Linked DNA regions of Homo sapiens. The protein of the gene in region 1 interacts with the protein of each later gene in a biochemical or structural test. Each region holds a gene or a part of one and is shown in the gene's direction. Other genes may lie near its edges.

What was found.
Region 2: the proteins of E2F3 (region 1) and HELLS form a complex in vitro, tested with the Homo sapiens proteins (one study listed by BioGRID).

Annotation. Positions count from the first base shown.
Region 1 is NC_000006.12:20,473,912-20,482,619, forward strand, and holds part of E2F3 (transcription factor E2F3), read left to right. Parts: intron 1-5,934; coding exon 5,935-6,046; intron 6,047-7,294; coding exon 7,295-7,514; intron 7,515-8,708.
Region 2 is NC_000010.11:94,596,948-94,602,599, forward strand, and holds the end of HELLS (lymphoid-specific helicase), read left to right. Parts: coding exon 1-9; intron 10-87; coding exon 88-164; intron 165-4,580; coding exon 4,581-4,675; 3' UTR 4,676-5,152; downstream 5,153-5,652. UniProt on the Homo sapiens protein: Plays an essential role in normal development and survival. Involved in regulation of the expansion or survival of lymphoid cells. Required for de novo or maintenance DNA methylation. May control silencing of the imprinted CDKN1C gene through DNA methylation.

The DNA of each region.
Region 1 (8,708 bases):
GGAAGAGTCGTCCTAATGTTGATCAGTCTCAAGTCTTGTCTTTTCATGCTTGGAGACTAATAGAAACTAAGAACATCAGTAGAGCTCCTTCCCCAGTGGAAAAAAAATAGGGGCAACAAATATCAGGCAGGCAGACTATAGATGTTCCCCACTGGCTCCAGTGGTAATTCTTTTGGGGTTTTGTGGTTTTTTTTCGTTTTGAGAGAGAGAGATGGGAGACTTGCTGTGCTGCCCAGGTTGGTCTCAAACTCCTGGGCCCAAGTGATCCTCTTGCCTCAGTCTCCCAAGTACCTGGGACTACAGGCGCATTACCATTGCACCCAGCTCTAACTACATACATTTTCCTACATAGATTTTCAGAACTGCTTACCAGTACAACTGTTTCTTTGCAGAGGCATGTTAACGTCCATGGGGCTGAGGTTTTAACGTTAGCACATACCTTGTTTATAGTACAAGTTACCCTTGAAAGTACTGCCGGAAGGTGCCACATGGAGTTCCACACAGAATCTCACAGAGCCAGGCTTTACCACTGCTTGGAACCAAATGGCCCATCCTTCTGTTGATTACTGGATAAGTTGGCTGTTTTACTGGTAGGGGCCATGTAATGTAAAGATCTGTGCATAAACAATGAATACCTCTCCAATCAGTACGATGCTCACGCTGTGAACTAACAAAAATTGAGATGACCAAGAGAAGAGATTTCCATCTACCCTGGTGCTCAGCCCAGGGCAGGGTGGTGTAGACAGAGCTCACCCGCACTATTTAAATCCTGTCATATAGTTTTTTGTTTTACCAGGCATGTGTGCTTGAATTTGCTAAGTTAAGCATTAAAATAATGCTGCTCCATCAAATATCAAAATTCTTAGCCCTTTTTCAAGAGATTCTAATTATTGCACCCATGTTCAGATCTGAGACCAAACAGGTAATATGTGGTCCCCACAAATCCAGTTCCGCCCTCCCTGTTCACTCAACAGGGGAGGAAAAATAACAGGATAACCCAACGGGAACCTCCCTTCTGAAAAGGGGAAATGACATAAAGTGCTCACCTCCTGCTTCTTGTCATGTCCTCCACAGGGACAGCAGTTTGTAGAGCCTATAAGTCCACCCCAAGTTCCACCTCCTGGGAGGAATTCTGGGGCTGCCCCTTCTTCACACCTCACTTATTTCTGGCGTGGCTTTTGGACCTAGTGATTGATTTCCTTAGAGGTTCAACATCATGGACCTTCACTTTCTAGACTTAGTGATTCTTTCGCAATAAAAGTGCCTTGCAATTTTAGTAGCTTGTCCATCTAGCATTCAAATTTGGTCAATTTATGGTTTGGTGCTTAGTAACGAGAGTTACACATGAAGACTAGTCCCGGTCTTTCGAAGTTAAGTCTCAGTCACTTAGCAGCAGACATGGAAATTTCCCTAACCTACAGTTTAATGGTTCCATAGGCCTTTGCCTCATGGCAGTCTGAAACAGCAGCCTGGGAGGGAGAGATAAAACTAGTATGCCCCCAGCCTGCTGACCAGTGGGTGGTTCTTTACTGCTGAGGCACGGCCCTAGGTCCCTAGGAGTTCTGGGTCCCAGACTCTTTTCCAAGTTTGCCTTCTTTCTGTTCACTTTATTTTCATTTTTTGAGACAAGAGTCTTTCTCTGTCATCCAGGCTGGATTGCGGAGGCACCAACCTCCACCTCCCAGGTTCAAGCAATTCTCATGCCCCAGCCTCCCAAGTAACTGGAACTACAGGTGCATGCTACCATGCTGGGCTACTTTTTGTATTTTTAGTAGAGTTAGGGTTTCACCAGGCTGGTCTCAAACTCCTGACCTCAGGTGATCTGCCTACCTCGGCCTCTCAAAGTGCTGGGATTACAGGCGTGAGCCATTGTGCCCAGCCCATTTGTTGACTTTAATTTGGGCAGAGAATACAGCTCTATGTCTCCTTAGATTGCTTTCTGTAGAGAAGGCCTCCATAGCAAAGCTGTTTTCTTTGAGGCGGGCCAGCCTCAGATGAAGTTTCTCTCTATCTGTAGTATCTTCCTGGCGGTCACAAGAAGTGACCAACACACTCTGCCACTCTCTAACAAGGCCTGCCAACTCCCTGTCACACCATAGCCATCTTGACTCAGCCAGTTCCATAAGCTGTCACTGGCAACAGCACAATTCTAGGTTCCCGACTCAAAACACTTGAAGCAGCTGGGCACGGTGGCTCACGCCTGTAATCCCAGCACTTGAGGAGGCCGAGGAAGGCGGATCACGAGGTCAGGAGATCAAGAAGATCCTGGCTAACATGGTGAAACCCCGTCTCTACTAAAACTACAAAAAATTAGCCGGGCGTGGTGGCGGACGCCTGTAGTCCCAGCTACTCGAGAGGCTGAGGCAGGAGAATGGCATGAACCCGGGAGGCGGAGCTTGCAATAAGTTGAAATTGCACCACTGCACTCCAGCCTGGGTGACAGAGCGAGACTCCGGGTCTCAAAAAAAAAAAATGCTTTAAGCAAAAAGGAGAGTTTATTGGCTAATGTAACTGGAAAGTCTGGGAAAGACCAACAGTTGCCCCCAGGGCATGACCAGAGCCAGAGTTTTGAGTGGTGGTCTCAGACCCCTCTCTCTCCTTCTCTCCACTCTGCTTTCCCCTGGGAAGGCCCCATTCTCAGGCAGCTTTAGGCTCCTCACTTACCAACCTTACTGGAAAGACATACCTGCTTCTTGCCAGATAGTTCCAGAAACATTCCTGGGGTTAGCCTTTGCTCCTCCAGCCTTGGTCATAAGCCATTCAACCTGTTCGCGGTGGGGGCGGGGAGGGCAGGATGGGCCACAATGATTAGCCAGGCCTGGATCACCTGTGTGCACAGATGCGCTTAGACCAGGAAAGGGATGGCTCCCCAAGGAACAAACAGGGAGCTTCTGCCTGATAAAGAGTGAATGTTTGCTGGACCAACCACAGCAGGCCCACACAAGGACTTGACAGAATGGCTGGGAGGGGAAGATGAAGTCCAGCAAGCAGATTGTCCTTCCGGAGCCATTAGAATGATGTTTAACTTAGCACTGCAGTAGAAAGATAAGGTGTGCCACTGAGGCAAGCCACATCGTAAAATATATATATAAAGAAACAGATGAAATAATTTTAATGCTACATCTGACCCATTAACAACATTGGGGTTAGAGGTGCCCTGACACAGTCAAAAATTTAGATAGATCTTTTGACTCCCCTAAACTTAACTAATAGCCTGTTGTTTGGGGTTTTCATTATTATTTTAGTGATGGGGGGTCTTGCTACGTTGATCAGGCTGGTCTTGAACTCTTGGCCTCAAGTCATCCTCCTGAGTAGCTGGGATTACAGGTGTGATCCATGCACCCAGCCCTAATAGCCTACTGTTGACTAGAAGCCTTACCAATAACATAAACAGTCATTAACACATTTCATATGGTATATGTATTATATACTGTATTCTTACAATGAAGTTAGAGAGGAAATGTTATCAATAAAAGAAAGTTTGGAATGAATGAAAGTGGAATCCACAGGATAGATTTCCCTCATCAGCCAAGCAGGACTAGAGGTGAGGGTGTGTGAAATAGGCCGTGCTGGGCAGAGCTGGGCTTTGCCTGAGTGTCTTACTCTTTTCCCTTATGATCTAAAGCCAGGTTTCTCCAACTTTAAGGTGTATCAGAATCACCTGGAAGGCCTGTTAGATTGCTCAGCCCCATTCCCAGAGTTTCTGATCCAATGCATCTTAGGTATGCTCTGGAATTTGCGTTTCCTAGCAGCTGAACTTGGTCCAGGGTTCAAAGTGTAGAAGGCATATGGGCATATAAAGCAGCTGGATGAAAAAAAAATCATAAGGAAGAGAAAATAGATTTACTATTCATTACTGGAAGTGGATCATCATAAAATTCATCCTCGTTATCTTCACATTGAGGAAGGTGTGGTGAAAGAAAAGAGGAGGGGTTGGTCTTACTGTCTCAGGGATGACAGAGGAAGAAGAAAACCCACATATAGGTGGACACACTCATGGCCGGGTGCAGTGGCTCACGGCTGTAATCCCAGCACTTTGGGAGGATGAGGCAGGAGGATCACTTGAGCCCAAGAGTTCAACACCAGCCTGGGCAACATACAGAGGCCCCATCTCTACCCAAAAAAAAAAAAATTTAAATTAGCCAGACATCATGGTGTGCACCTGTGGTCCCATCTACTCAGGAGGCTGAGATGGGAGGATTCCTTGAGCCTGGGAGGACAAGGTTGCAGTGAGCTGAGATCACACCACTGCACTCCAGCCTGGGCGGCAGAGCAAGACCCTGTCTCTAAAAAAATAAAATCAGTGGAAACGGACAGTCCAAACCCATGTTGTTCAAGGGTCAGTTGTATTTTATTTATTTCATTTAACATGTGATCACTACTAAAATTGTTGAGATATTTTACCCTGTTTTGTACTAAGTCTTCGAAATTCAGTGTGTATTTTACAATTATAGCACATGTCAGTTTGGATGAGCTAGTAACCAGTGGCTATCGTAGTAGACGGTGCAGGGTTAGCTGGTAACTTTCCATAGAGGGGCTGAATATCTAGCTTCCGCTGATAAGTTATTACTTACGTTTTCACATCACGGGGAGTTGTTTTGAAATTGCAACTCTCGGCTGGGTACAGTGGCTCACGCCTGTAATCCCATCACTTTGGGAGGCCAAGGTGGGCAGATCACCAAAGATCAGGACTTCGAGACCAGCCTGGCCAACATGGCGAAACCCCGTCTCTACTAAAAATACAAAAATTAGCTGGGAGTGGTGGCGTGCACCTGCAGTCCCAGCTACTTGGGGAGGGCTGAGGCAGGAGAATCACTTGAACTCAGAGGCAGAGGTTGCAGTGAGCCAAGATCGCGCCACTCCACTCCAGCCTGGGCGACAGAGCAAGACTCTGTCTTAAAAAAAAGAAACTGCAAATCTCCTCATTAGAAGAATCTGCCTGAAAATGAGCCTAAATACATATTTTTGTGCTGAGTGTCCAGTTGGTGCCATTTATTTTCTAAAACACCTGTCATACCCATACAATTAGTACTTAACAACTGCTTAACCATCTATCTTTTCTCTTGGACTCGAAGCCCCTTATCTATCTTGCTTACTAAGCCCAATGCCTAGGTACCTAGAAGACGCTATGTGGATATTTTAAAATTTAATTGGAGTTAAATTAAAAACTTAGATAAGGGCTTCTCATTTGCTAGGCTTGATAAGAAAATGGAGAAAGTAATAGTGGTTGAAGCCCAAGATTGCATGTTTGCAGTATTTGTTTTCCCGATGAAGGGCCGTTTGTAGTCTGTGACTAGTTGTGTTACGATCCAATCACCCTTTCTCTCATTGAATATACAGTATATAGAGAGAGTGATTGAAAATCTACAGAAACCCAGGCTCTGTGCCAAGCACTGGGTATACAAAGATAAATGGGAAACAGTCCCTGCCTTAAAGGAAATGAGAAACAGATAAGTCTTACAGTAATACCGAATAAGTGTCATGATACAAATAAACACAGAGTGTTTGGGGAGCACAAGGAAGGGGGTCCAACCCAGGTCGGAGAATGGGAGATGGGCAGGAAAGACTCACTGTGGAAAGGGAATTTAAGCCCCACGGCGCCTGTGATATTCTTAGCATCCAACCCCATGCCAGGCACATGATGTGTTGAATCAATGAACAAAGTGACTCCTGAACCTAATGCTGAAGGATCGCTGTGTTTGTCCATCTGGGTGTGGACGGATGATCACGGCAGGTGAAGAGAGTGTGCATGACAACCCAGCCTACAACGCTAGAATCCTGGCTCTAGGGAATGACAAGATGCTGAGTGGGGTGGAGCAGAGGGGTGAGAGCTGGCATGAGCCTGCAGCATTTGGCAGGCCAGCCCACAAACTGCCTCCCTTCTTGTTCTTGTCCATATGACCGGTGACGAGAGATCGCACTTTCTTATTACAGGCAAAGCGAAGGCTGGAGCTAGGAGAAAGCGGTCATCAGTACCTCTCAGATGGTTTAAAAACCCCCAAGGGCAAAGGAAGAGCTGCACTACGAAGTCCAGATAGTCCAAAAAGTAAGGATCTTTTCATCTCTTTCCTTATTCTCCTTGGTATGGCATTTCCAAGTTTCAAAGCTTATGGCCGGAAGGATGCCAAGGTGTGAATAATTCTGGCATGTTTTGTTCTTTTTCATTTCTTTCTGTGCTTATCCAAAAAAATAAATACAATGTCAGCAGACAACCAGTGAAAGGCTACAGAGTCACACTGGTACCATAAGGGAAGACTTCTTTTAACTGTATGTAGTTTCATTTTTCAACTCGGAATACGAACTTTTGGCACCATTCTATATCAAATTTAATTTTAACTTCCCTTAATGGACATTGCTTCAGAGTCTGAGGCAAACTGGATGTCCACGAACTATGCCAGAGTCACCAGTGTCTGTGCCGACCTCAATCTCCAGCTCAGCATATGATAGCGTAAGAATTGATTGAGCCCGATAAATTGCAGGCTGTTTCTCTTTCTATCAAATACTATTACCGTTTCTTGTGGGAGAGAGAGAAACGTAGGTTAGAAATAGCCAACTAGTCCCATTATGTATGTGTTTGCATTTAACATAAGGGCTAAATTAGACTTTGTTCTCTCTCTTCCTTTAGTTCATGCATTAGGCAATCCACAAATTGTGTGACACTAAATTAAAACCTTGACCTGTGCACCTATGGGGGAACAAGTACAATATTAAGTAAGGAAATTTCCTTTAAGAGAGATGGGGAGATTTGGCAGAAGACTTTTCCAGGTAATTATTTATCAAAATGAAGCATTGTTTGGAAAATTGGTGAACAGGTGATACACGCACACACAGATACCAGAGCCTGAAAGGCCATTTGAGATGGGTCTGTTTAAGACCTTGTCCTGCAGTGCTAGTGAGACTCATAGCCTGGCTCCATCACCGTAGGCCTCGTGTGTGCTGGTCCCCTGAGGCCACAGCACTCTTTCATTCATTTGACAGATATTTTTTAGCGCCCGCTATATGTAAATTCTTCATTGGAGCCAGGGAATGGTGTAAGTCAAGGTAGAAACTCTTGAGAAATTCAAGGTGAAATGCTTTAATCAAACCCTGGAATTTTTACCTTCCCTTCCTGCTCTAATAAAAAACTTTCATAGCTTTCTATGACTTGCCAACACCAACAGCAACGACAGCCTTGCTTCAGATACTAATACTTTGGCTGCAGTGGGAAAGAGAGCTTGCTTGACTGCAAAGACACCCTTCATTTCTTTACCTTTCCCCCTATCCCCCACCCGCTCGGTTTTTGTTTTTCTTTAAGCTCCAAAATCTCCCTCAGAAAAAACGCGGTATGATACGTCTCTTGGTCTGCTCACCAAGAAGTTCATTCAGCTCCTGAGCCAGTCACCCGATGGGGTATTGGATTTGAACAAGGCAGCAGAAGTGCTAAAAGTGCAAAAGAGAAGGATTTATGATATCACCAACGTTCTGGAAGGCATCCACCTCATTAAGAAGAAGTCTAAAAACAACGTCCAATGGATGTGAGTAGGAGTCCTCCCCATGCCCCGGCTCTGAGGGGGTCGTTTCAAACTGCCTGGTTTCTTAGTTCCTCACTTTCACATCCACGCCCACACGTTCTTTTCTTTTCTCTCCTACTGTTTTCTTCTCTCTCATTCTCTCTTCCCTCCTCAGCTTCTAAGCCAGAAGTTTGAAGTCTCTTTACAAAGAGACTTTGTTTAGATACTGTCAGAGATAAAAGGATTTATATTTGATGAGCATCCAGCAACGGCATCCTTAAAGAGGTCCCTGCAGTTGGAAAGTGGACTGCTGTTCATCTGTTACATAGATGTCTGTGTGCACCCACGTGTGTATCTGACAGATGTGTACACGTCTTCAGCTTGTTTCTAATAAGAATCTGGAAATGATGGCTTATGGGTTATCTATGTGTATACGTACAACTGCATAGTTACAGAATATCTTTATCCATGGTTCTAATAGCAGATTAACTCACTTTCTGGGTAAATTAAGGCAAGACTTAAATGCCTCCATTTCGTCTGTAGAGCAGGGATGGTAGCATGATACTTATACAGCCACACGTATGATTACATATGTAATATATTTTGTGAATTTTAGAGCATCTAAATAGCCACTATAAGCACAGTATTGAATTATTAAAGCATTTTGGAAGGAATAATTCTGTTACAGGAGGGCTTTGAAAAGATACTAATTCAGATGGAAGATGAATACATACCTTTTTTTGCACATTTTGGAATTTTGTTGACAGTTTGGTAACCCGTTTTGGCCTCTGGTTTAGAGAAACATATTGTGCACTAGTCTCAGTTCTTGCATACATCACATACATCTGTTTCCTTTACTTTCTTTTCTTTTTAGTTGTTGATATAAGACCCTCAGTAATTACCTGAGTTTTTGATGCTTTTTTGGATGGGTTGTTTTTTTGTTTTTTTTTTTTTTTAATTTTGAACCATTCCATCTTCTCTGTCTTTCTCTATCTTTTTATCCTTTTTCGCCTTTCTTCCCCCACCACCTGGGAGCCATGAGGCAAGGGAGGAAGGTGGTTGCCTTCTTTTGCCCTCTGAATTTGAACCTTCTGAAGAAGTAGACCTCCCCTGGAGGAAAGAATCCTGAAAATAGCAGTGCGCTTTCACTAAATTTCTATGCTGTGAAAAGTGCAGAACTGTATTTATGAAAAAAAAAATATATATATATATATATAT
Region 2 (5,652 bases), on another chromosome or scaffold:
TTATGAAAGGTGAGTTTTTAATTTTAGAAAGATTTAATTTGTAGCTTTGAATTATTCACATAGACTTGAATATTTTGTTTTCTATAGGGAAATAAAAGGATCAAGAGAGAAGGTCATTAGTGATAAAGATCTAGAGTTGTTGTTAGATCGAAGTGATCTTATTGGTAAGTATTATGCTTTTTTTTAATGGAAGCTTCGAAACATACACTTAATTAGCATAATGTAATGAACCCCTTGTGCAATTCATTCAGCCACATGTATCCAATCTTGTTTTATTGTCATTTTTCTTCTTAGAGTATTAAAATCAAATCTCAGACATGACATTTTGCCCATAAATGTCATTATCTTTAACTTCTTCCATAATTCAGATATTTTCTGTAAACTGGTAAATAACACTTGTAAATGAATATATTCAAGTTCCTGTCTTAGTTAAGAATACCAGTGCTTTGTTCTCATATTTTTCGTCATACCAGGAGGCACATCGTATCTGGATTTCTTATTTCCAGTGAGCTAAGATTAATCAAGATAATGTTATAAAGTGTCTTGTCAGCCTTCATCCTTTACTTAACACGATGATTTATTTTATTTTATTTTATTTTTTTGGAGACAGAGTCTTGCCCTGTCGCCCAGGCTGGAGTGCGCTGACACGATCTCAGCTCACTGCAACCTCAGCCTCCTGGGTTCAAGGGATTCTCCTGCCTCAGCCTCCCTAGTAGCTAGTATTACAGTCGCCTGCCACCACACCTGGCTAATTTTTGTATCTTTAGTAGAGACAGGGTTTCGCCATGTTGGCCAGGCTGGTCTTGAACTCCTGATTTCAGGTGTTGTGCCCACCCCAGCCTCCCAAAGCACTGGGATTACAGGCATGAGCCACTGCACCAAGCCTAACGTGGTGATTTTTAGTATCCCTTGAAAGTGGCTGATAAGAACCATTATTAACTTAATCATTGCAAAATGGTGATTTTTCTTGTTCTGTCATTCTTTTATTAGCTGGGTTATTTAAGAACTTTCCCTTACAGTTTCCCTGAGATAGAAGAGAGCCAGGATATATTGCTTCTTTTTTTTTTTTTTATCAGTTTTTAGAATACCACCTTATGATCTGATGCCTACAGTGATGACCATGAATTATTTTGAAAACAAAAATAATATTTTGTACTTCATAATTTCCTAATTATTTTACAACATATTACTGTCGTCTAGGCTATTGATTATTTGTCTGTTGCATCTGTATGGTGGAGATACTGTATAATCTTTTTTTCCCAACTGTATTCCGTGACATTTTGGTCTTTTGAAATTGGTGATGGCAGTAACATTCATATCACGGATACAGGCAGAAACTAGAAACCCCAGTCTTTGTTTTTAACAAAAAAGGGTCTTGCTTTGTATTCCTGGCTAGAATGCAGGAGTGCGACTATAGCTCATTGCAGCCTAAAAGTCCTGGGCTCAAGGGATCCTCCAGCCTCAGCCTTTGGAGTAAGCTGGGATTATAGGCATGAGCCATTGTGCCTCAGTTTTTGTTTTTTTTGAGACCCAATTGTTAAACATTTACCTGCGTGGCACTGGCTACAGTGTCATGATATCTTATTTTCAAATATGTTGTTCATTTTAAAATTCAATTCTGTGTCTTATTGAATCAAAATAAAATATATTGGTTGGAAGTTTTTTTTTTTTTTTTTTTAATCAGATGTATTTTCCAAACATTTTCTTCTACTCTGGCCTGTCTCTTCACTTACTTACTTAGTATCTTCTGAAGAGCAAAAGTTTTAAATTTTAATGAATTTCAATTTTAACAAATTTTTTTCTGTTCACTCATGATTTTTATGTCATCTGTAACTACTCTTTGCCTAATTCAAGGTGTTGATATTTTCTTTTAATAGTTTTATAGTTTTTGCTCTTACATTTAGATCTATGATCTATTTTCAATGAATTTTCATCTTTTTGCATGTCAATATTAATTTGTTAAAAAGATGATCCTTTTTCTATTGGATGGCCTTGTCATCCTTGATGCAAATAATTTGATCATAAATATAAGGATTTATTTCTGTATTCTCAATTCTGTCCCATTGATCTCTGTGGTATTCCTATGCCAGTATCGCACTGATTTAATTAAGGTAGCTTTATGGGAAGTGTACTTTCTCTAGTTTTGTTCTTTTTCAAAATTGTTTTAGATATTCTGGATTATTTGCATGTTTATTTGAGTTTTAACTTTGAAATAGTTTAGGGAGAAATATGAGACATACAGCATCATGGTCAAATCTAAACTATATTAAAAAACAACATTATGTGAGGCATGTAAGGACTGTTTAACATCTGATAATATAATTCATATCAATTAAATAATGGAGAACTAGATGATCACCTAATTAGATACCAAAAACCAACTTGCCATAATATCGTAATCATCTTCATAATTTTTTTTTATTTGAGACAAAGTCTCGTTCTGTCACCGAGGCTGGAGTTCAGTGGTGTGATCATGGCTCACTGCAGCTTTAACCTGCTGGGCTCAATCAATCCCCACACCTCAGCCTCCCAAGTTGCTGGGACTGCAGGTGTGATTACTATGTCCTGCTAATTTTGTTTTGTGTATTTTGTAGAGACAGGGGTTTGCCATGTTGCTCAAGCTGGTCTCACACTCCTGGGCTCAAGTGATCTGTCTGCCTCATCCTCCTAAAGTGCTGGCATTATCGAAACTGCTTTTATTTGCAAGTGGTCTGGTTTGATTATCTTCATAGGAAGTCCAAGGGAATCCAGAATCTTTTAAAATAGAATTTAAGAAGATTGCTTATTAATAATATGTGTAACAGCAATAATTGTTTAATAATGAAGGTTTTTACAACAGCTACAAAATTAACATGCCTACAATTAAAGTTTAACAATTTTTAACATGTTTATATAAGGACAGAATTATGAAACATTGAAGGACGTTAATAGAAAGACTGAGTAAACATGCAGATTTAGCTGTATTTGTGGATATGAATGGTTACTACAAAGTGTAAGTCAGTGGTCCCCAAAACTAACTTATATTCTTGAATTTTTCTTCTAATTAAAATCCCAGAATGATGGCTGGGTGTGGTGGCTCATGCCTATAATCCTATCACTTTGGGAGGCTGAGGCAGGTGGATTGCCTGAGCTCAGGAGTTAGAGACCAGCCTGGGCAACACGGTGAAACCCTGTCTCTACTAAAATAGAAAAAATTAGCGGGGCATGGAGGCATGTGCCTATAATCCCAGCTACTCAGAAGGCTGAGGCAGGAGAATTGCTAGAACCTGGCAGGTGGAGGTTGCAGTGAATGGAGATTGTGCCACTGCACTCCAGCCTGGGTGACAGAGCGAGACTCTGTCTCTTAAAAAAAAAAAAAAAAATCCCAGAATGACTTTTTGTAAAACAGACTGTTGTTAAAATTTATATGAGAGAGTAATAAAGGGCCAGAACCAAGACAGTTTTGAAGCACAAGATATTCTATACCAGGTATAAAGTCTTATTAAAAATTTAAAAGTCATAATAATCAAGATGGTAGAATTAGCACATGGTGTGATATATTGGCTAGAAGTACAATATGGTGAATCTAGAAAGACAACTTTCACGAAAAGCTAATAAATGTGAAATGGAACTTCAAACAACTGATAGGAAATTCCTATTAATCAATAGATGATCTGGGGAAATAGTAATTAATAGGGGAAAAATTAACTTAGATTCTCCTCTCCTCACACTGCACTTACAAACTTCAGATAAATTAACAATCCACGTGTTCAAAACCTAAATATTAAAGGTAGAATTTTAACCTAAAAAGACAAGAAAATATATTTATGATTTTAGAATTAGAATTCTTTATAATACAGAAATCACAAATTATATGATAGGTTTCATAGATTTTAATTACATTAATAGGAAAGACTACTATAAGACAGATGACACCATAAAGAGATAAGAGACAAACCACAAATAATATTTGCAACATATAACAGGAAGTGTTTAGGATATGCAAGTAAATAAAAGTTGATAATGAAAACGGATAATATAAGAGCAGGCTATTACCAAGAGAGAAAGAAATGTCTGATGAACAGACAAGGATGATTAGAAATCAGTAATACAAATGAAAATCAGATTTCATTTCACAGCTGTCATGTTGATAAAAATTTAGGAGACTACATATTGTCATTGATTCAAAATGTTTCTCAAGGTAAGCTTTTTGTGGTGTGTTTTCAGCTATTAAACGAATCGTGATTGGGCCTCTTTTTAAAACGTTTCTGACAACATGATTCAAATTGATATTATTTATTGCTCTTTGACTTGTTTATCTTACCTTAAATTCAGCAAAAGCGATTTTGACTAGCAAACTGATGCTTTAGATTGTATGCTCCCAAGAGTCTGATTCTAGTTGTTGTATTAAGAATAGTGTACCTTTTTGCTTTCACTGCTATTAAATCTTGGTGATTAAGGAAGAGAGTGCCCTGTATTACTGTGAGTTTTATAATTTTGGACAGATGACTCACTTCTCATAACATCATATTGGATGTTTCTTTTACGATTTCTTCTTCTTATACTTCTAAAATGTACCTGTTTTAATGTTTTTCCCTTAGATCAAATGAATGCTTCAGGACCAATTAAAGAGAAGATGGGGATATTCAAGATATTAGAAAATTCTGAAGATTCCAGTCCTGAATGTTTGTTTTAAAGTGGAGCTCAAGAATAGCTTTTAAAAGTTCTTATTTACATCTAGTGATTTCCCTGTATTGGGTTTGAAATACTGATTGTCCACTTCACCTTTTTTATTATATCAGTTGACATGTAACTAGTACCATGCGTACTTAAATAGATGGTAATTTTCTGAGCCTTACCAAGAACAAAGAAGTATCCATATTAAGTTTAGATTTTCAGTTAATTTTTGAGACTGAGTAGTATTCTTGGATACAGGCTGATGTGTACTTAACCACTTCCAGATTTATACAGTCTTCCTGTGGAAGTTTAGTAAATGTCTTTTTCCCTCCTTTCTTCTAGTAATGCAGTTCATGGGCTTTAGGTACTTCAGTTATGAAGTAGGCTTTTCATGGGGAGAGATTGGGATTATGCTCTCTGTTGTTTAAGAAACTGTTTGATTTTAGAGTCTATTTCTATGAGATAGTTTACCAAATAAATGTTCCTTATAAGATGATCTCATTAAATTATTTCTTCAGGAATAGCTTAGGTGCAATAATAGCAAAAGACTTGGCTGTCGGTAGGATTTGGTTATTTTGTTTTCTTGGTTTCATTCACTAGTACTATAGGAGTGTGTCATATAGAGATTTCAAGTGGACATTGTGTTAGCACAAGAGAAGTTTCTGAATGAAACTTTAGGGTCTTGAGAAACGACTAGAAATTGGAAATGGTAGTGTATCATGCAAAACAAGACAGACCCTGAAAATTTATAGTAGTGGGTTAACTAGAACCAAATATAAGAGAATAGGCCTTAGGAATATGTAAGTAATGCACAATCTGTAATAGAACAGCATAAAGGCCAAAAGAGGCACAATTTAGACCCTGTGTGAAAGGATATCAGACAATGAGGAAGAGAAATCCTGAATGTACCCTGGAGAGGGGACATACTCCATAAGCCATACATTTCTGTGTTAGTGTTTATTTCATGGAAAAATATTGCTGTTGCCATGTATATTC